3 linked regions of the Homo sapiens genome follow. The protein of the gene in region 3 purifies or fractionates together with the protein of the main gene of each other region. This does not show direct contact. Each region holds a gene or a part of one and is shown on either strand. Other genes may lie near its edges.

The links. The genes of interacting proteins can lie anywhere in the genome.
Region 1: the proteins of C1orf174 (region 3) and STK35 purify together in Homo sapiens (affinity purification with mass spectrometry; 4 studies listed by BioGRID and IntAct, with this or other methods). This does not show direct contact.
Region 2: the proteins of C1orf174 (region 3) and ZC3H8 purify together in Homo sapiens (co-immunoprecipitation; 2 studies listed by BioGRID and IntAct, with this or other methods). This does not show direct contact.

Annotation. Positions count from the first base shown.
Region 1 is NC_000020.11:2,104,826-2,111,852, forward strand, and holds part of STK35 (serine/threonine-protein kinase 35), read left to right. Parts: intron 1-7,027.
Region 2 is NC_000002.12:112,245,017-112,252,043, reverse strand, and holds part of ZC3H8 (zinc finger CCCH domain-containing protein 8), read left to right. Parts: intron 1-1,771; coding exon 1,772-1,853; intron 1,854-7,027.
Region 3 is NC_000001.11:3,897,268-3,904,127, reverse strand, and holds the start of C1orf174 (UPF0688 protein C1orf174), read left to right. Parts: upstream 1-3,855; 5' UTR 3,856-3,941; coding exon 3,942-3,956; intron 3,957-4,546; exon of another isoform or gene 4,547-6,860.

The sequences.
Region 1 (7,027 bases), on a different chromosome or scaffold from region 3:
CTACCCTCTCCCCAGGGTGAGTGTTTTTGTTTTGAAAAGACTTCCAGCAGGGCACAATGGCTCACGACTGTAATCCCAGCACTTTGGGAGGCTGAGGTGGGAGGATGGCTTGAGCCCAGGAGTTTGGGAACAGCCTGGGCAACAAAGTGAGACCCTGGTCTCCACAAAAAATAGAAAAAAAAATAGCCGGACCTGATGGCACAGGCTTATAGTCCCAGCTACTTGAGAGGCAGAGGCAGGAGGATCAGTTGAGCCTGGGAGGTTGAGGCTACAGTGAGCCATTATCATGCAATGGCACTATAACCTGGGCGACTGAGCAAGACCCTGTCTCAAAAAAAAAAAAAAAAGACTCCCTAGGGGATTCGTTTATCTTACCTATATTCTAGGAGCGCATCACTTACTTTGAAGTCTTTCTATTCTCAGACTTCTCTTAGTCTTCTCCTTTACTGCCAATGAATGGTCTGGACTTCCTACTACAGGATTGCCTTGGGATGTAGGAATTTGCCTTGCCGAATGTTTATTCCTTGTGTCCTCAGTTCATTGACGCCAGTCTCGAACCTTCAACCTCAGCTTGAAGCTCTTGCTTACTCTCTCAACATATAAATACTATGTGGACTTTCCTCACCTGAAGAATTTGTCAAAATTCCAAAGTGACCCCATGGCAGCATAGCATAGTGGTTAGTACCATGGACTTTGGGGTTAGACCCTCTGGCTCATCCCAGGACTGACTGCACAAAACATGGAGCAAATTGTTTGAACCCTGTGAGGAGCATTCCTTTATTGTAAGATAGTGGGTATGTACCTATGACATTAGGTACATAGGGTCACTGTGCAAACTGTTAATGTCAGCAAGTGCTCCACATAGGGAGGAATTCACTGCCTTATATAAGTTCACACCATGTTCTGTACTCTTCTACCCTCACCCCCTTCAAGATTCACATTGTTCTTGCTCAAGTTTCCCAAACTTGTTTCATCATAGAACACACCTTGTTTTCTGTGTTGTCAGGCACACCAAGTTGACAGAAACACTGGTGTTTTCATCCTCCCTTTGTGAACTAAAACTGGGACCTAGAAAAATGAAATCTTTTGCTTTAGGCCGTACACTGGATTGGATTGGTCCCTTTCAGTTGTTTGGAGTCTTTAAAATATTTGAACCTCTACGGTGTTCAGGGCTCAGAGACAGAGCAGTGAAGAAAATATGTGTTGTTTCTGCTTATGAAAATGACATTCAAGCTGACTTGCAATGTGTGGATTTTTCAAGTAGTAAATAGGTAATCATTTTTGCTTCTTAAAATAGAGAACAGATACCAAAATTACTCCAGGTTAAACTTTGCTTATTCTGGATTCCAAAATTTAGGGGTCTTGATCTGTCCTGGGGCCTTGGGTTTACAGCATGCAAATACCACCCAGTAATGTTAAAGCTGGAAGGAATCGTAGAGATAACCTGGTTCAGCTCTCTCATTAAATAGAAAAGTCCTTTACAGTCACCCTTGGCCCTGCCTCCTAAAACTCAGAATGATTTTGAACAGGCCAAAAAGTGTGAATCTGCCTTGAAGTCTCAACTAAACCTAATGCTGAGTCCCTACTGTGGTATTTGAAGGGAAAGAAAAAAAGCAAAGCAAAACACACCACCCCTTGCCCCAATGGAACTTACATTTGAAAAGTTTGAGAACTGGAAGAAGATTTAAATGCTATTCAAGATCACTGGAGGAAATGACCAGTCAACTCATAAGCAAGGGCTTTGCACAAGAATTAAGAGGAAAGAGAATCAGGAGTTAGGGAGAAGGTGGGCTTGAAAGTAGGGTGCCTAGGACTGTGGATAGGCGAAGAGACAAAGGGAGTCCGTTTCACTATTTGGCCAGTAAAATAATCCAGTATCGAAAAGAGAAATGTCTTGAAATGCTGTTCTTGGTCTTACCCCATTTTGTTTGATAGCCTTAAATGCATTGTCTCCTTCCATTCTGTGCACAGACCAAACACGTCCTACCCAGAGGCATTAAGACAGCAGAAGCTTCGGAGGAATAGAAAGAGGTCTTAGATGTGTGACCTGGCTGCCTGTTTCACAAGGAAGGAAACTGAAGCCCAGAAAAGGGACAAAACTTTTATCCACAATGAGTTAGTGATAGCACTCAAACCAGCCTCCCAGGCTTTTTAAAACCACATTTACAATCCTGTAAATTATTTGGTTGAAGGGTTGGTGCCTATGTTTTTAACTTTGAAATACTTCTCACATAAAGGTTGGGGGGGTGAAGGCATCAACAGTTTGCTTTTATCCCCTTGTTTTCCATTGCGAGAATGCCTGTCCTGAATGTGCCTAAAACAAAGTTCAAGATTACTGCCACTTAGACAGCAGGCAAGCCTGAGTCACTGTCAGTCAGAAATTCTGTTGCTTTGTCTAAGGCACACACTGATTCTTCTGACAAATAGCAAGTGAGGACACACTCACAGACACTAATCCAGGACAAACTCTCAAGACTCATATAACAGAATAGTTAGAAGTTTGGGAGAGCCGGGAGCCTAGCTTACACTCAACTTGATAAGACACTAATTGTTCTTTACCAATTGTTTGATGTCGATGCCTTTAGGTGGCTGGGAACCGAGGCCTTGGAAAGTAATCTTGCCTGCACACCAAGTGGCTTTGAGCCAGGCTACTATAAGAGGCCATGCAGAGTTTTTCTCCACGAGGCATGCAGAGGACGCATGCCCACATGAACATAATGCAGGGTCACAAGTGGTAGCATCTTAGAAAATAGTACAGTTGTCTGGGAGTTTAGTTAGGGGCATTGGGGAAGCAGGGGAAGGAAGAAGCTGAGGGAGGAACTATAATAGTATAGGATAGACCAGGGTCTTAGCAATAGATGGGTTGTCAGCCTGCAAACTTCCCCAACTTGTCGAGTGCCTAGGGAACCTTCAGAGCAGAGCAAGGCCGTTCCCTCCCCAGCCCTTAGAAAAGCAACTCTGAATCCTCTTCTGTGGCTTGGGTCTCAGAGTTTAGAGAGCCGCCAGGTCAAGAGGCAGAGAGCTGGCTGGCATTGGGGAAATATAAGTTAACACAATACAATAAAATGCTAGACTCAGAGTCAGAAGGTTTTAATCCCAGTTTCACCCTGTAAATAAGAGCTGAAACTTGCAGGTTGCTATGTATCAGGTGAAGTCAGTACCGTGATTATCTTCATTTTATAGGTGAGGCAACTGAGGTACCAAGGTTAGTGAAATTGCCCAATGTAAAACAGCTAAGCAAGTAACCAAGTCAGGATTCAAGGCCAGACATTCAAACTTGAGTATGCTTTCTTAACTGCTGTGGGGTACTGCTGGGACAGGTAGCTTAAGTTCTAGGTTCTTCTGTTTTTCTTGGTTGTAAAATGGGCATAATCATATTTTACTCAGAAACTAATGGCTCAGGCCGTGTGCGGTGGCTCACACCTGTAATCCCAACACTTTGGGAGGCCGAGGTGGACGGATCACCTCAGGTCAGGAGGTGGAGACCAGCCTGGCCAAAGTGGTGAAACCCTGTCTCTACTAAAAATACAAAAAATCAGCTGGGCGTGGTGGCGGGCGCCTGTAATCCCAGCTACTCAAGAGGCTGAAGCAGGAGAATCACTTGAACCCGGGAGGCAGAGGCTGCAGTGAGCTGAGATCGCATCAGTGCACTCCAGCCTGGGCGACAGAGCAAGACTGTCTCCAAAAAAAAAGAAAGAAACTAATGGCTCCTCTTTGTTTTTAGTTGTATATTGATCAGTGCTTGTGGCACTGCTGATTTCTGTTGGTTCCTTCTGTGTGTCTCAGCTGCCAGGGACCCCACCTGCTCTCTGCTCTACTCTTGAATGACTTGGGGCAACCACACAGACTTCTTGCTCCTGACCGACTACTTTTTATGTGCATTGGGGATTTTAGGTACCAGCCCCAGGAGACAGAAGCAGCCCTTCCTTAATTGAGAGCTTTGGTTAATTGGGGTTGCGTTGGGTAAGGCTTTTTATAGTATAAACTCTCGAGGGGTGCTTCCTAAGTAGAACTTGTAGTCTGCTCATATTCACCTCAAATGTGGCCTTTGCTGGTATCTGTAGGGCTAGGAACCCTCCTTAGTGACTTCTAAATTCTGGATCCTGACCTAGTTGTCTTTAACTTGCATATTCTGCATACCCTACTACTACTTTCTGTGTTCTTTCTCTTTTTACACCTCTCCAGCGCATGACTTTTATCTTGATTTATTTCACCCTCTTATCGACCACCTAGGTGTGCATGTGGTATACTGTGGGGAACCCAGAGACTTGATTTCATTCCACCGTGAGTGCCCAGTCTAATGGAAGAGATGGTTACAGTACAATAGATGTTACTTCACTGCAGCCTGTAAGAGGTGCTCTGGGTGAATCAGCTGCCAGGAATGTGGACTAAATCTGGGGAAAGGAAGGATGAGTTGTAAAAGGGTAAATCAGAAACAAGCCTGGCAAGAGCTGAGGCTTAGGTGTGTGGCAAGGCCCATGCATATGGAGAGAGATACTTGAGCCCGGACTGCCATGGATTAGGGGTACCCCAACTCTCTGCCTGGCTGGTGGATTCTACATTTTAACAAACCCCTGTAATGTTCCAAGTAGTAATAGCTAGCATTTCGTAGTATTTTCATACTCCTTTTCTCATTTAATCATCACCACTGTAAAGTTGGTGTTTATATAACTTGTTCTTACAGACAAGAACGTCAGTGTCCATCAAGGTCAAGTTGCTTGTCCAGCACAACACTAGAGAAAGGTCAGGGCCTAGGTTTACATCCAGATGCTCTTTCCAGTGTCCATGTTCTTGACAGGCTGCCTTGTGACCGTGTTGGACAGCTGCCAGTGGTGTCCAGAGACATTAGCATAATTCACACCCAGTAGCAGTCTGCTCTAGTGTCCAGGCACCATTCAAGGTGCTTTGTATGTCACAGTTAAGCCTTAGAGCAGTCCAGTGCTGTAGGTGTTTCTTCTCAATTTATAAAAAACTAAACAGATTCTTAGTGTTCTAAGAAATTTGCCCAGGATCATATAGCTATGTAATTGGGGGATTGGGGGCAGGTAGTAGAGGGAATGTTGACCCCAGGCCTGGCTGGCTTTACAGCCCCTGTCCGGCCGGTGGGTTTACTCTTGTCCTCTTTTGGACACTGTGTTTTGCCCTGGCAGCCAACAGAACAAGTCTGTTAATCTTAGGAAGTACTTTGGACACACCCTGTGGTGTTGCTATGGTACCCAGCCTCTTTATAATGACATAACAGCACAAAATCATTGAGAATGGGACCAATTCTTGGTCTGCATTTTCATATTTCTTTGGGAAGATGTGCCAGGATGGGTCCGTGTCTTTAGCTTCTTAGGACAGATCTTTGGCTGAGCCAGCTCTTTAACTAAAATATTTTAATGTACAACTCCTAATTAAACAGGGATGGCTATAGTCATAATTTATTCAAACTTCATTTTTCGGGGTTCCCTCATCCTTTTTCTTAAGACATAACTTTATAATTTTAATATTCTGCCCTTTTCCCCCCTTCACATTAAAACTTGCTTATTACATGCTATGTGACTTTCTCTTTTGGCTTTTTAAGTAAACTTTTGTTGAAGTATAATATGGTCCTTTAAAACTTTCAGCCAATTGGTATTACCATAGTTAACTGTTACTCATTCTCATTCTTGGACAGTAGTTTTCCAATCCTCCACTTTGACTTACTCTGTATGGAATACCAGTTCTGAGTGTCTCTGGTGTTTGGTGTGTGTTTTTTTGTTGGGTGGGGAGGCTTGTTTGTTTTGTGTCTTTTTGACACTTTTGGAATGAATTCCTCAAGTGGGATTTTTCTTTCAAATGGATCGAGCATTTCTAAGACTTCCTATATGTATTGCTGAATTGCTGAAGTGTGCGTAAGTCAAAGTCCTAATTAGTCCTCTGCTGAAAGACAGATCTGCATGTTGTGTGGTTGGACCATCACGAGGGACTGGATGAACATTAAACTCTGGGGGGCACGCATCAGAGTCTGCTGTGGGAACTAGCACATCCAGGTGTGCGATTTTGCTGCAGGCACTAAGGCAGTCACAGTGCTTCTGCTGAGAATCTAGCCTATGGAAACTCAAGGTCCTGCCCTCAACTAGGCAAGTTACTTAATCTTTTGCTCCTGAGTCTCCTCACCTGTGAGAGGAAATGTAATTATTATCTGAATAGATAGCAGTTTCGAGTAACCAGAGAGGAATGGCAGAGCACTCTCTGAATTCTTCCTTTCCATCTTATGTGACAAGTTATTAAATCTTATTTATCCTAAACTTCTAAGACCTTTCACATCCTCTTCTCACCTCCTCCCTTGCCAGCCCTCACTTCACCAGGTTTCAGAGCCTCTTGATAAGTCAGTCGGCCACTAGGCTGTCTCCCATCGCCAACCCCTCATGCCTCCATAAGGAACTTGTTTCATTGTCCAAGATATGCTCTTTCACAGTTTAACGTCTCTGAAATCAGCGGTTGACTTAGTCAATGGTGTGCCCATAGCGTTGTCAGCAGCCTATATGGCTTACTTAAATGGTATGCCTTAAAATTGGTGACTTGTAGATTCTGTAAGCGACACATCTCTAAAATACGTCAGTGGCCAGGCGTGGTGGCTCATGCCTATAATTACCCAGTACTTAAGGAGGCTGAGGTGGAAGGATTGCCTGAGCCCAGAAGTTCAAGACCAGCCCGGGCAACATAAGGAGACCCTGTCTCTACTAAAAATAGAAAAGAATAGCCGGGCGTGGTGGTGCATGGTTGTAATCCCCACTACTCTATTCGAGAGGCTGAGGCAGGAGGCTCCCTTGAGCCCAGAAGGTAGAGGCAGCAGTGAGCTGTGATTGGCTGCACTCTGGCCTGGGCAACAGAGCTAGACCGTTTCAAAATAAGTAAATAAATAAAATGTATTAAGAACTTTCAGTCACTTCCCATTTCTTGGAGTCTAAATCCACCTTAGAAGATATCCAGCCTCATTCCGGCACATCTACAGAAACTCTTCTGTGATTATCCAGACTACTCGTGTCCCTGGCGCACACCC
Region 2 (7,027 bases), on a different chromosome or scaffold from region 3:
TATAGACAAAGAAGAGAAGAGGTGAGAACTGACTTTGAAAGTTGTGAAGATAAGGAACCAACAAAGGAGACTGAGAAGTAGTAGCTGTGGAAAGAAGAAACTAGAAGAGCCCACTATCTCTGAAGCTAAGTAAAGAACATGTTTTACAGAGAAGAGGTGGTCACCTCTGTCCTATCCTGCTCATAGGTCTAATATGGGTGCTGAGTATTGTAGACCTTCACAGTGAAAGTAGACATCTATTTAGAATGGGCAGTGTTGAATAACAGTGTGATTGTAGGGCACATACTTGGGAGCTTTGCCTGCCTGCTGGGGCTCAGATCTCAGCTCCACCATGTATTAGCTCTGTGACAAGTTACATATCCTTTCTGTGATTGTTTTCTCATCCGTAAAATGGGCTTTTAGTATGTATGTCATAACACTGTTGTTTGTGGTAAGTGTTACGTGTATGGAGCAGCATCTGGCACAGAGTAAGCATCATTCAAGTGTTGGCTGATGCTGTTACTGCTATTGAGGTCATTATTGTCATTATTCCTCTGCCTAAGGAGAGGTTGCCTCCTACTCCATGAGATGATTCATTACTGGAAACTATAGCTATAAAGATTCACAAGTATTGGGGTTTTTGGTTCTTGTAATGGTGGCTTCTGTAGCAGGCTCACAACTTAGTACCTCATCTGATGGATGTAACTCTGGAGCTCTGAGTCAGTGTAAACTGTTGAATTGGACAAAGCTGTGAAGCCTGAGCTCCTGTAACTTTGAAAGAACAGCCACGGAGCCACTGTTCACATTCTCCTTGTGCTGTCAGTGCTTTCCCTTTGTAACATGTTCTCTTGAGATGGGACACATTCCCCAATTCCTTGCCTTTATCTGGTGTGTAACTCATATTTTAATTCACAGCTTTTCCCAATCTTGTGTTCAATAGTCACCACTTACTAAGATAATATTTTCTTCAGCTCCCTATATTTCTAGTATCAACCATTATTCAGATACATCTATACATTTTATTGTCTTCTTTGTTCACCATGTTCTTATATTTCCCATCCCTCTTGGGTTCATATTTAGTTTTGCTGGAATAGCCTCAAGTAATTGTCTCAGACTGTTATATATATGCATGGTCAACTTCTCAGTCCTGTAAGTCTGAAAACAGTTTTTCTTTTTCATCTTTACACTTAAATGTGTTTGTCTCGCTCCTAATCTCAAAAGGCACTCTGCATTCTGCCTAAAATACCCTTCTCTCTCACATTCCTCTTTCCTCTTTTTTGGCTAACTCATAAGTATCATTTAGGCTCTGAATGCCTCTGATCCCCAAGTCTGGGTTGTGTTCCCCATATATGCCCCTATACTTACCATACCATATTGAAATAGCTTTATTTTTTTCTCCCAAGGAGATAGAAAGCTCTCAGAACACAGTGACAGGGTCTGTATTTTTCATTGTTGTAGTCCAGGGCCTAAGGCCCGGAGCCTCGTACATGGTGGGTACTTAGTAGTTGTTGAATTAATGGAATGATGGATGAATGAATGATTTATATAGCTGCTAATACTTGAACATTAAGGCTTTATAATCTAAAATTTTACAGGCTATTCATAAATATATATGGACATTTATTGGTCATCATAATTTTGTACATTTTCTGGAGTATTTGGTATAGAATTTGAATTTGTAATTTCTTTGAGGGTAAGTTGAAGACAAGCCAAAGCAGTGAATTGTAACGCTGTGGTATGAACACTTCAGGTTGAAAAAACTCTTTTGTGTTATTTGATATTTTTGCTACAGAATCGATGATGAAATAGATACAGAAGTTGAAGAAACACAAGAAGAGAAAATTAAACTGGAGTGCGAGCAAATTCCCAAAAAAGTAAGATTAAGTTGACCACTGTTTAAGTTGAAAACGCAGATTTTTTTTTCTCAGTTTCACATGGAACAACAAAAAAAGAAAAAACAGATGGAAATGGATATGAGAAATTAATGAAGGATCCTACTTGTCTCATTTTACCAGCATTTGGGACCCAGTTACTTATATCAAAGAAAACTGGTTATACTTTTTAAATAAATTATTATTTAATAACTTTATTGTCATTTAACATGACATATGTTTAATAATTGCATTTATTTCTATTTTTGTTATTTCTGAAATGGACTGTAAACAGTTTCAAAAGCTTCTTTCAAGTTGGGTTAACATTTTTGAGGGTTATGATTTGTTAACTTAACCAACCTTAGTGATTTATAGCTTAAAGCCCGTATTAGTTCATTAGGGCTGCCATAACAAAGTACCACAGACTGGGTGGCTTAAACAACAGAACTTGGCTGGGCGCGGTGGCTCACGCCTGTAGTCCCAGCACTTTGGGAGGCCGAGGTGGATGGATCATGAGGTCAGGAGTTTGAGACCAGCCTGGCCAATATGGTGAAACCCATCTCTACTAAAAATACAAAAAAATTTAGCCAGGCATGGTGGCATGCACCTGTAGTCCCAGCTACTAGGGAGGCTGAGGCAGAAGAATCACTTGAACCCAGGAGGTGGAGGTTGCAGTAAGCCAAAATCCCGCCACTGCACTCCAGCCTGGGCAACAAAGCGAGACTCCGAATCAAAACAAAAACAAAAACAAAAAAAACCCCAGAACTTTATTGTCTCAAGGTTCTGGAGGCTGGAGGTCCCAGCACAAGGTGTTGGCAGGGTTGGTTCCTTCTGAGGCTGTGGGGAAGAATCTATTCATTCATCTCCCCTAGCTCCTGATGGAATGCTGGCAATCTTTGGTGATGGCTTGCAAAAGTATCATCCTGATTTCTGCCTTCATATTCACATGGTGTTCTCCCTGTATGCCTGTGTCTGAATTGTCTGAATTTCCTTTTTTTGAGACAGAGTCTTGCTCTGTCACCCAGGTTGGAGTGCAGTGGCACAATCTCTGCTCACTGCAACCTCCTTCTGGACTCAAGCAATTCTCAGCCTCCCAAGTAGCTGGGATTACAGGTGTGCACCACCACGCCCAGCTAATTTTTGTGTTTTTTGTAGAGAAAAAATATACATGGGGTTTCGCCATGTTGCCCAGGCTGGTCTCGAACTCCTGGGGTCAAGCGATCTGACCGCCTCGGCCTCCCAAAGTGCTGGGATTACAGGCCTGAGCGACTGTGCCCGGCTGAATTTTCCTTTTTTATAAGGAAATCAGTCACTGGACTAGGGCCCACCCTAATGACCTAATCTTAATTAATTACACTTGCAATGACCCTATTTCCAAAAAAGGTCACATTCTGAGGTATTAGGGGTTAGTAGTTCATTATAAGAATTTTGGGAGGGTGCAGTTCAACCCATAACAAAGGTAATGTATATTCCTATCTTGCCCTTCTTTTCTGTTTTTGAACATGGAGAAACGCCATCTCTACTAAAAATACAAAATTAGCCAAGCATGGTGGCAGGCACCTGTAATCCCAGCTACTCAGGGAGCTGAGGCAGGAGAATCGCTTAAACCCGGGAGGCAGAGGTTGCGGTGAGCCGATATCATGCCATTGCACTCCAGCCTGGGCAACAAGAGCAAAATTCCATCTCAAAAAAAAAATGAGTTTTAACACACTATAGAAGAATGGGTTAAATTGTCACTGAGACTTATAAGACAGAAATAGACTTTAATAGTGTATCTTTTACTTAGCTTTCTTGCTTGCTTGCTTTTTCTTTTTCTTTCTTTCTTTTTTTCCTTTTCTTTTTCTTTTTCTTTCTTTTCTTTCTTTCTTTCTTTTCTTTCTGTCTCTGTTGCCCAGGCTGGAGTGTGGTAGCATGATCTTGGCTCACTGCAACCTCCTTCTCCTGGGTTCGAGCAGTTTTCCCACCTCAGCCTCCCGAGTAGCTGGGACTACAGGCACACGCCACCACACCTGGCTAATTGTTGTATTTTTAGCAGAGACAGGGTTTCATCATGTTGCCCAGGCTGGTCTCAAACTCCAGAGCTCAAGTGATCTGCCAGCCTCGGCCTCCCGAAGTGCTAGGATTATAGGTGTGAGCCACCATGCCCAGCCTCCTTAGTTTTATAAAAGAATACAGGACAGATGATAAAGCAGGTACAGTATCTTCATCTTCTTGGAAGCCTCTCAGCTACCCAAGTAAGCAACTTCTTTTCCCCTTTGGGGCCTATGTGGCTTCCAAAGATGAGAGCCAAGGTTGACGACAAGAAATTGCAACTTCAACTTCCCACAAGTTTTTTATACTGCTTGAGTCACATAGGCCTCAGTCTTTTATGCCCACTTTTAGCTCCTCCAGACTTCGTATTATATATTATAACCTTCCACAGCAGACAGGCAGAAACAACATTCTACAACTGTCTTACATAGTTTCTGCAAAACAGTACTGTGAGAAGATGGACTCCTAGGTTATTCTCAACCAGGCTTGCTTCAGTGCAGCCTCTTCACTCACAAGTATGTAAAAGGTGAATACATTATCAAATAAATATCACAGCTAATTAATTAATTAACTTATTTATTTTTGAGACAGAGTCTCACTCTGTTGCACAGGCTGCAGTAAAGTGGCAAAATCTTGGCTCACTGCAACCTCCACCTCCCAGGTTCAAGCAATTCTCCTGCCTCAGCCTCCCGAGTAGTTGGGAATACAGGTGCCTGTCACCCACCTTGCCTGGCTAATTTTTGTATTTTTAGTAGAGATGGGTTTTTGCCATGTTGGCCAGGCTGGTCTCGAACTCCTGAGCTCAAGTGATTGGCCCGCCTCAGCCTCCCAAACTGCTGGGATTACAGGTGTGAGCCACCATGGCTGGCTATAGCTTATTTAAAAGAGAATACCCAGGTAAACACTTTGCAAGTTAAGAAAGAGCATTACCTCAGATTTTGAGGGTTTGATTTCATACCACCACAATAAAACAAATATTGCAGTAAAGCTAGGCACAAGAATGTTTTGGTTTCCCAGTGCATATAAAAGTTACATTTATACTATACAGTACTCTGTTAGGTGTCCAATACCATTATATTTTAGAAAACAGTATATATCTTAATTAAAAATTCTTTGTTGCTAAAAAATGTTAACAGTCAGCGAGTCATCTTTTTGATGGCAGAGGGTCTTGCCTCAGTGTTGATAGCTGCTGAGGGTGGTGACTGCTAAACACTGAGGTGGCTCTGGCAATTTCTTAAAATAGGACAGCAGTAAAGTTTGTCACCTCAATTGACTTCTCCTTTTACAAAATATTTCTCTGTAGTATGTGATGCTGTTTGATAGCATTTTACCCACAGTAAAAATTTCAAAATTGGAGTCAATCCTCTCAACCCCTGCCACTGCTTTATCAACTAGGTTTATATAATATTCTAAATCTGTTGTCATTTCAACAATGTTCATAGCATCTTCACCAGAAATAGATTGCATCTCAAGAAACCACATTGTTCACTTGTAAGAAGCAGCTCCTCATCTGTTCAAGTTTGATCATGAAGTTGCAGCAATTCAGTCACGTCTTCATTCTCCACTTCTAATTCTAGTTCTCTTGCTTTTCCACCACACCTGCAATTACTTCGTCTACTGAAGTCTTGAACTCCTCAAAGTCATCCCTGAGGGTTGCAATCACCTTCTTTCAAACTCCTGTTATTGTTGATATTTGACCTTCTGCCATGAATCACGAATGTTCTTAATGTCAGCTAAAATGGTGAATCCTTTCTAGGTTTTCAATTTACTCTGCCCAGATCCATCAGAGAAATCACTTTCTATGGCTACTATAACCTTAAAAAGTGTATTTTGTATTTATTTCTTAAATAAGACTTGAAAGTCAATTATTCCGTGATCCATAAGCTGCAGAATGGTTGTTGTGTTTGTGGACATGAAAACATTCATCTCCATCAGAGCTCTTGGGTGACTGGGTGCATTGTCAATGAGCAGTAGTATTTTGAAAAGGATATTTTTTCTGAGCAGTAGGTCTCAACAGTGGGCTTAAAATAGTCAGTAAACCATGCTGTAAACAGATATACTGCCATCTGGGCTCTGTTGCTCCATATATAGAGCACAGGCAGAGTATATTTAGCATAATTCTTAAGGGCCCTAGAATTTTCAGACTGGTAAATGAGCATTGGTTTCAACTTAAAGTCACCAGCTGCATTAGCTCCTAACAAGAGTTAGCCTATCTTTTTGAAGCCTTTTAAAGTATTTTATTTGTATAAATTTACGGGGTGCAAGTGCAATTTTGTTACATGCATAGATTGTAGTGGTGAAGTCAGGGTATTCTTTGAAGTGAGGTATTGACTTCTCTCTAGTTATGAAAGTCCCAAGTGGCATCTTTTTCCAACATAAGGCTGTTTCATTTACATTGAAAATCTGTTGTTTAGTGTGGCCACCTTCATCAATGATCTTAGCTAGATCTTCTGGATAATTTGCAGCTTTTACATCAGCACTTGTTGCTTCATCATGCACATTGCTTTTTGAGATGGAGTCTTGCTCTGTCACCCAGGCTGGAGTGCATTGGCATTACCTTGGCTCACTGCATCGTCTGCCTCCTGGGTTCAAGCGATTCTCCTGCTTCAGCCTCCTGAGTAGCTGGGACTACGGGTGTGCACCATCACACCCAGTTAATTTTTGTATTTTTAGTAGAGACGGGGTTTCACTATGTTGGCTAGGCTGGTCTTGAACCCCTGGCCTCAAGTGATCTGCCCGCCTCGGCCTCCCAAAGTGCTGGGATTATAAGCGTGAGCCACCGCGCCTGGCCTGTCATGCACTTTTTATGTGATGGAGACATCGTCTATCCATAAACCTCAAGAACCAACCTCTGCTAACTTCAGACTTTCCTTCTGCAGCTTCCTCACCTTTTTCCACCTTCATAGAATTGAAGAGAGTTAGGGCCTTGCCCTGGATTAGGCTTTGGCTTAAGGGAATGTTATGACTGGTTTGATCTTCTATCCAGACCAATACAATTTCTCTGTATCAGCAATAAGGCTGTTTTGTGTTCATATCATTAGTGTGTTCACTGGAGTAGCACTTTTACTTTCCTTCAGGAACCTTCCCTTTGCATTCACAAGTTGGCTATTTGGCTTACGAGGCCTAGCTTTCAGCTTGTCTTGACT
Region 3 (6,860 bases):
CCATCACACTGCAAACGTACAATTCTGTGTGATGATTCCATGCCTGGGCTTGCGCCTGGCCCAGTCCCCAGAACACAGTGGAGCTTGATACCTTGAGTGAATGAGTGGATGCGCCATGCTCTGGGATAGCACCGGAGAAACGGTCCTGGCCTGCCACGGGGTCCTGGTAGAAGAGTGCAGAACACTAAAAAAGCAGCAACCGGCAGATTGAATGTAGGGGGCGGGGGAGCATCCAGGAAGGGCCCCCTGAGGACAGGAGATATAAGCTGAGTTGAGGTTTAACAAATGGATTAGCCAGGCAAAACGTGGGTTGGGGAGCTGGGGAAAGAAGGTTTTCAGGCACAGGGAAGTGGGGAAGAGGCTTTGCAGTGGTCAGGAGCTGAGGGAGGCACTGTGGATAGCAGAGGGGCAGGGGAACAGGTGCTGGGACTCTGTGCGGCTGGAGCAGGGAGCGGCAACGGTGAGCAAGCTCAGAAGCCCTTCCGCACATTCATTGGACAAACACCTGCTGGGCACCCACAGTGTGCCAGGCACCATGCCAGGACTTACAGGCCACTCTAAGACTGTGGCTCTGGATCCCAGAAGCAGGGGATCACCCCAACAGCTGTGGGCTGCCCAGGCCAGAGGAAAAGGAGAGACCAGCCGTGAGGCTTCAAAGTCTAGAATTAACAGCAACCGGCATCTGACAGGATGTGGGCAGGGAGAGAGAGACATTCACCAATGGCCTGGGTGTCAGGCCTTACAGCTGGGAGGCTGGAAACCATGCTCATCCCAGACCTGGGGAGAGGACAGACAACATTGGTGAAGGGAAGGAGAGTGCCCTTTGGGATGTTAAAAGTCCACATGGCTCGGAGCCCAGAGCCCCCATCGGGCGGGCGAGGCCAGGCAGTGAGGCATTTACATCAACTGGCACCAACCACAAACAAGACAGGCAAACACCAGCCAAGCCCCAGTGGATGAAAACTTTGAGCTCCCAAGGACTGGGAAATAAAACCACTGAACCAAGCTTATTATGAAATCAATCTCTGCGAAAATGGGACAGGCTAGGTGTTTAACAAAGTATCGCTCGCTCTCATTTTTTTCTGAACAGCTGGCAGCGATTATATTAAGTTTCCATTTCAAACGCATTTCCTGCCAGTTACACATTTGTCTCCTCCCCTTCTGTACAACATGGATAATAACACGGGAGAAGCGCAGGGCTAGGAAGAGAGAGGGTACAACAGCCAGGTAGGACATGTGTGTGTGTGTGTACACCAGGGCTGCAAGCATCTTCACTCACTGCCGAAAGCAAAACCCCACGTGCAGTCTAATTTGAGGGCTCCACCTAATTACCAAACGTCACACTTCTAAAGAGAGTGGAGGCTGCATAGAGCTCAAGCTGGCAGGATCCTTAAATACTCTCCCTTCTCAGGCACTAAAAGGAGGCATCAGCTGCATGTCTGGGCTTTGAGAGAGTCATACCGTAAGAGAAGGCACACTGATGCTTTTGGAAGAGATTATGAATCACACCCTGCCTTGGAACAGTGCACAGAGGGACCCTGAGCAGGCCATGAAGCCACAATGCAATGCAGTTCACTTTTCAACCTTTGTAGTTTAAGTGGAAAACCTAATGCTTCTGACAAAACTGCCTGATTTAAATGTTCTCACTTGAAAAAAAAAATAATGATTTAAAAAGGAAATAAGACTCCCATTTATTTGCAAAGCACAGTACGGGCTGCTGGGTGCACCCTGCGCCCGAGCACCTGGGAGCCAGCCCTGGACTGCGCAGCCACCTGCGGGCGGAGAGGGGAGGGGCCAGGTGTCCTCGGCCTCTGATGTGGCTTCCACCCTGCGCCCTTTTCTGAAGACACACATCCTAGAGCCCAGAGAACTTGAGGGCTGGAGGGTTTAAGGCAAGGCTGGATTTCATTTCTATGTTGAAATTCTTAAGAACAGAACAGTGTGCCGAGCGCGGTGGCTCACGCCTGTAATCCCAGCATTTTGGGAGGCCGCAGCAGGCGGACCACGAGGTCAGGAGATCGAGATCATCCTAGCTAACACGGTGAAACCCCGTCTCTACTAAAAATACAAAAAAATTAGCCGGGTGTGGTGGCGGGAGCCTGTAGTCCCAGCTACTCGGGAGGCTGAGGCAGGAGAATGGCGTGAACCCGGGAGGCAGAGCTTGCAGTGAGCCGAGATTGCGTCACTCCACTCCAGCCTGGGCGACATAGCGAGACTCCCGTCAAAAAAAAAAAAGAAAAGAAAAGAACAGTGGGCCTGGCACGGTGGCTCACGCCTGTAATCCCAGCACTTTGGGAGGCCAAGGTGGGCGGATTATTTGAGGTCAGGAGTTCGAGACCAGCCTGACCAACATGATGAAACCCCATCTCTACTAAAAATACAAAAATTAGCCAGGTGTGGTGGCGCCTGCCTGTAATCCCAGCTACTCAGGAGGCTGAGGCAGGAGAATGGCTTGAGCCCATGAGGCGGAGGTTGCAGTGAGCTGAGATCGCGCCACTGCACTCCAGCCTGGGTGACAGAGCGAGACTCCGTCTCAAAAAACAAACAAACAAACAAAAAAACCCACAACAGAACAGTGGTCCTCAGCTTTACAAACACCTCCCTCAGCGGCGGCCAAAGAGGACGCATCACAGCAGCCCAGGCCTGCTAGGGGCGTGTTTGCTGGAGGAGGCGTGGCCGCCGTGTGTCCATCCAGACCTGATAGGGCGCGGCCATTGGAGGAGGCGTGGCCGCTGCGGGTCCACCCAGGCCTGCTAGGGGCGTGGCCATTGGAAAAGGCGTGGCCCCTGCGAGTCCACGTTGGCCCCGGAGAGTAACGGGACGGCGGAGGGGTCATTTCCCGCCTTGCACGTAACGGGGGACGAAAACCGGCCCCCAGCCCGACGCCGGACCCTGGCCTCCTGGGCCCACCGACGGCCTCCACTAAGGCCCCCTCCCGCCCGCAACGTGGGGGACAGCTGAGGCCACTTCCCGGGCGGGCCACCCCAACCCAAAGCGGCATGTCGCGGGGCAGCACAGCCTGCGACAAGCGCGCAAAGCTCCCCAGCGGGACCGCAGCACGGGCAGGCCTGGGAGTCCCTCGCGCTGCTCAAGGCCGCTAACCGGCACTCAGAAACCAGCGCTCTGCGGCACTGGAGAAAGCACTTCCCGCCCTCCTGCAGGCTGTTAGCCAGGGGATGCAAGGGGAGGGGCCCCTCACGGACGTCCCGCCCGCCCCTCTCAAACATGGCGGCCACAGGCGCACCAAAGGAAGAGCCCCTCACAAACATGGCCGTCCGCCCCTCTCATACATGGCGCCAAAGAGGCTTCAAGGGAAGCGCCCCTCACGAACATGGTTGCCTGCCCCTCTCAAACATAGCGGCCACAGGCGCACCAAGAGAAGCGCCCCTTACAAACATGGCCGTCTGCCCCTCTCAAACATGGTGGCCAAAGAGGCTTCAAGGGAAGAGCCCCTCAAGAACATGGTTGCTCCCCCCTCAAGAACATAGTTGCCCACCTCGCTCAAACATGGCGGCCACAGGTGCACCAAGGGAAGCGCCGTTCACGAACATGGCCGTCTGCCCCTTTCAAATATGGCGAACACAGAAGCTACAAAAAAAGCACCCCCCGCAAACATAATCTCTCAGGCCTGCCACGGGCGTGGGAAACATAGCGGCTACAGGGGTGCCAAGGGACGCGCCCTCATGAACATGGCCGGCCACAGGCCGACTTCCTGCTCCAGTGTCCCACCACTGGCCCAAGGCCTGTGACCTTCGCCCGCCGCTTACGAAAGAGCCAACACGGGGGGGGGGGGGGGGGGAATCACATGACGAGGGTGCTGCACTGTGATTGGCTGTGCTGACGTCGGACGCCGCCGCGGCGCGCTCTGCAGACTCCGGGTCGCCGCTCCGCCGGGACGCGTTGGCCGGGGCGCGCGGTGCTTGGCTGCGGTGCTCACACTCATGAGGAGCCGGAAGGTGAGGGCTGGGTCCCGGCAGCAGCTGCGCCGGGCAGGGCGGGGACTCTGGGTCACCTGCTGTCTGGAGAACCGGGGCGGGGTCACGGGGTGCCTGTGGCCTAGGAGCGGCCTCCGCTTGGGCCTCGCCCCCGGCAGTAGTTGGGGGGCTCCAGGCCACGCTCCCGGGAGAAGGAGGGCTGCCAGGTCACGCCCCTGTGAAAAGGGGGCTCCGGGCCACGCCCTCGGAAGAAGTGGAGCTCACAGGTCACGTCCCCGGGAGAAGGGGGCTCCCAGGTTACCCACCCCCGCAGAATGGGGCCTCTGGGCCACACCCCCGAGAGAAGGGGAGCTCCCAGGCCATGCCCGCGGGAGAAGGGGGGCTCCGGTCCACGCCCTCGGGAGAAGTGGAGCTCACAGTTCACGTCCTGGGCAACAGGGGGCTCCCAGGTCACGCCCCCTTGAAGGGAGGTTTCGGGCCACTTTCCTAGGAAGGTGGGGCACCCTCTCCAGAACTGGTTTCAACTCCTGGTAGTGCTAGATGCTGCAGAGCTGAGTTTGTGCCCCTCAACTGCTGCCACTCCAATGGACGTCACACAGCAAGTGACCTCAGCTTGGCCCCATCTACTGAATGTGCTAAAAGTGGGGTGATGAGGGATCCACCAAGAGGGTGGTGAGGATTGAAGGGGGGTGCCAGTGTCTGGCAAGGGGCAAGTGCTCATTGCGTGGGTGTAACAGTTAAGGCGAAGGACCCTTTTCACAGTGGACCCGGCGCGGGTCCCGGTCCACTTGGGAGGCTCTGAGCTGCATGGAGGCTCTCCTGGTTTGTTCAAATGGAGTGGCCACTTGTGAATTCCAACTCCTTTTACTATTTTTATCTTTGAACCAAAACTTGTCTCCTGTAGGCACATATACTTGGATCTTTTTTAAAATGCAGTCTGGTAGTTTCTGCCTTTTGATTGAATTGTTTAGCCCATGCACATTTAATATTATTGATACACTGTAGTTAGGTTTACATTTGCCATTTTACTTTTTCTTTTCTTTATACAAGTCTGTCTTTTTCTTCCCCTGTTCCTTCTTTAAGTGGATTAAAGTGAATATTTCCTAATGTAGCATTTTAATTTAATGATTTTTTTTCCACAACTTTTTTGGGTTTTTTCCAGTGCTTTATGTTTTACCGTATACAGCTTAATCTTCATATTCTCCATATACATCTTAAGCTTCAGATTTGTACTAGGTTAATTCCAAGTGATACAGAAATGTTACTCTTATATGGTTATTTTTGTGGTATTTTGTTATATGTATTACATCTGATAATGTTACAAACTCAACAGTACTGTGTTATCATTATTACTTTCTGTCTGTGGTCATTTCCTTAGCCAGCAGGGGTTTGCTTTCACCCACTTTGTTTTGTTATTGGCAAATATAGTACATGTCTGTATATATTATACACATATTACTGTATACAATTGCTTTTTAAATTAAGAGAAGGAGGTAGAGGAATAGGCATTTAAACTATATAAGAACATAATTACCTTTACTGGTGCTGTTTTTGTGTGTGTGTGGTTTTGAATTACTGTCTGGGGTCACTTGCTTTCAGCCTGATGAACTTCTTTTAGTGTTTCTTGTAAAGTGAGTTTTGTTGTTGTTGTTGTTGTTGTTGTTGTTGTTGTTGTTTTTGCTTTGAGACCAGAGTCTCACTCTGTTGCCCAGGCTGGAGTGCAGAGGTGTGATCTCGGCCCACTGCAACCTCTGCCTCCCGGGTTCAAGTGATTCTCACCTCAGCCTCTGGAATGGCTGGGATTACAGGAGGCTGCCACTACGCCCGGCTAATTTTTGTGTTTTTACTGGAGACAGGTTTTCACCATGTTGGCGAGGCTGGTCTAAAACTCCTGACCTCAGGTGATCACTGCCTCAGCCTCCCAAAGTGGTGGGATTACAGGCATGAGCCACCATGCCCAGCCCATTTTTGAAGTATAGCTTTGCTGGATATAGGATTCTTGGTTGACAAGTTTATTTGAGCATGTTGAATATGTTTGAATATTCTCCATTGTTTCAGTCAGTTCATTTATTGAGGTTCCCTTCTAAGTGGCTTTCTTCTTGGGGCTTTCAAGGTTTTGTTCTCTTTCAAGATTTTGCCTTTGATCTTTGTATTTTTACAGTGATGTGTCTGTGGATCTCTTTGCATGTATCCTATTTGGAGTTCTGTTCATTAAGATTCCTGGATATGGGGCCAGGCACGGTGGCTCACGCCTGTAATCCCAGCACTTTGGGAGGCTGAGGCAGGCGGATCACAAGGTCAGGAGATTGATACCATCCTGGCTAACACAGTGAAACCCTATCTCTACTAAAAATACAAAAAATTAGCGGGGCGTGGTGGCGGGCGCCTGTAGTTCCAGCTACTTGGGAGGCTGAGGCGGGAGAATGGCATGAACCTGGGGGGCGGAGCTTGCAGTGAGCCAAGATTATGCCACTGTACTCCAGCCTGGGCGATAGAGTGAGACTCCGTCTCAAAAAAAAAAGATTCCTGGATATATAGGTTAATGTTTTTCTGTAAATTTGAGAAGTTCTCAGCCATTATTTCTTCAAATATTTTTTCTGCTCCTTTCTCTCTGCATTCCTGGTGGTTCTTATTTTGTGTATGTTAGTGCACTTAATGATGTCCAGCATTTCTCTGCAGCTTGCTTTATTTTTCTTCGTTCTTTTTTTCTCTGTGTTCTTCAGCATGCATAATCTATCGATCTGTCTTCAAGTTTGCTTATCCTGCCAGTTCAGTTCTACTATTAAGCCCTTCTAGTGAATTTTGTTATTTCAGGTTTTGTACTTTTCTACTCCAGAATTTCCATTTGGTTTTTAAGTAATTTATCTTTATTGATAGTCTCTTTGATGCAGCATTATCTTATGTTTCTTCTTTATTCATGATCTT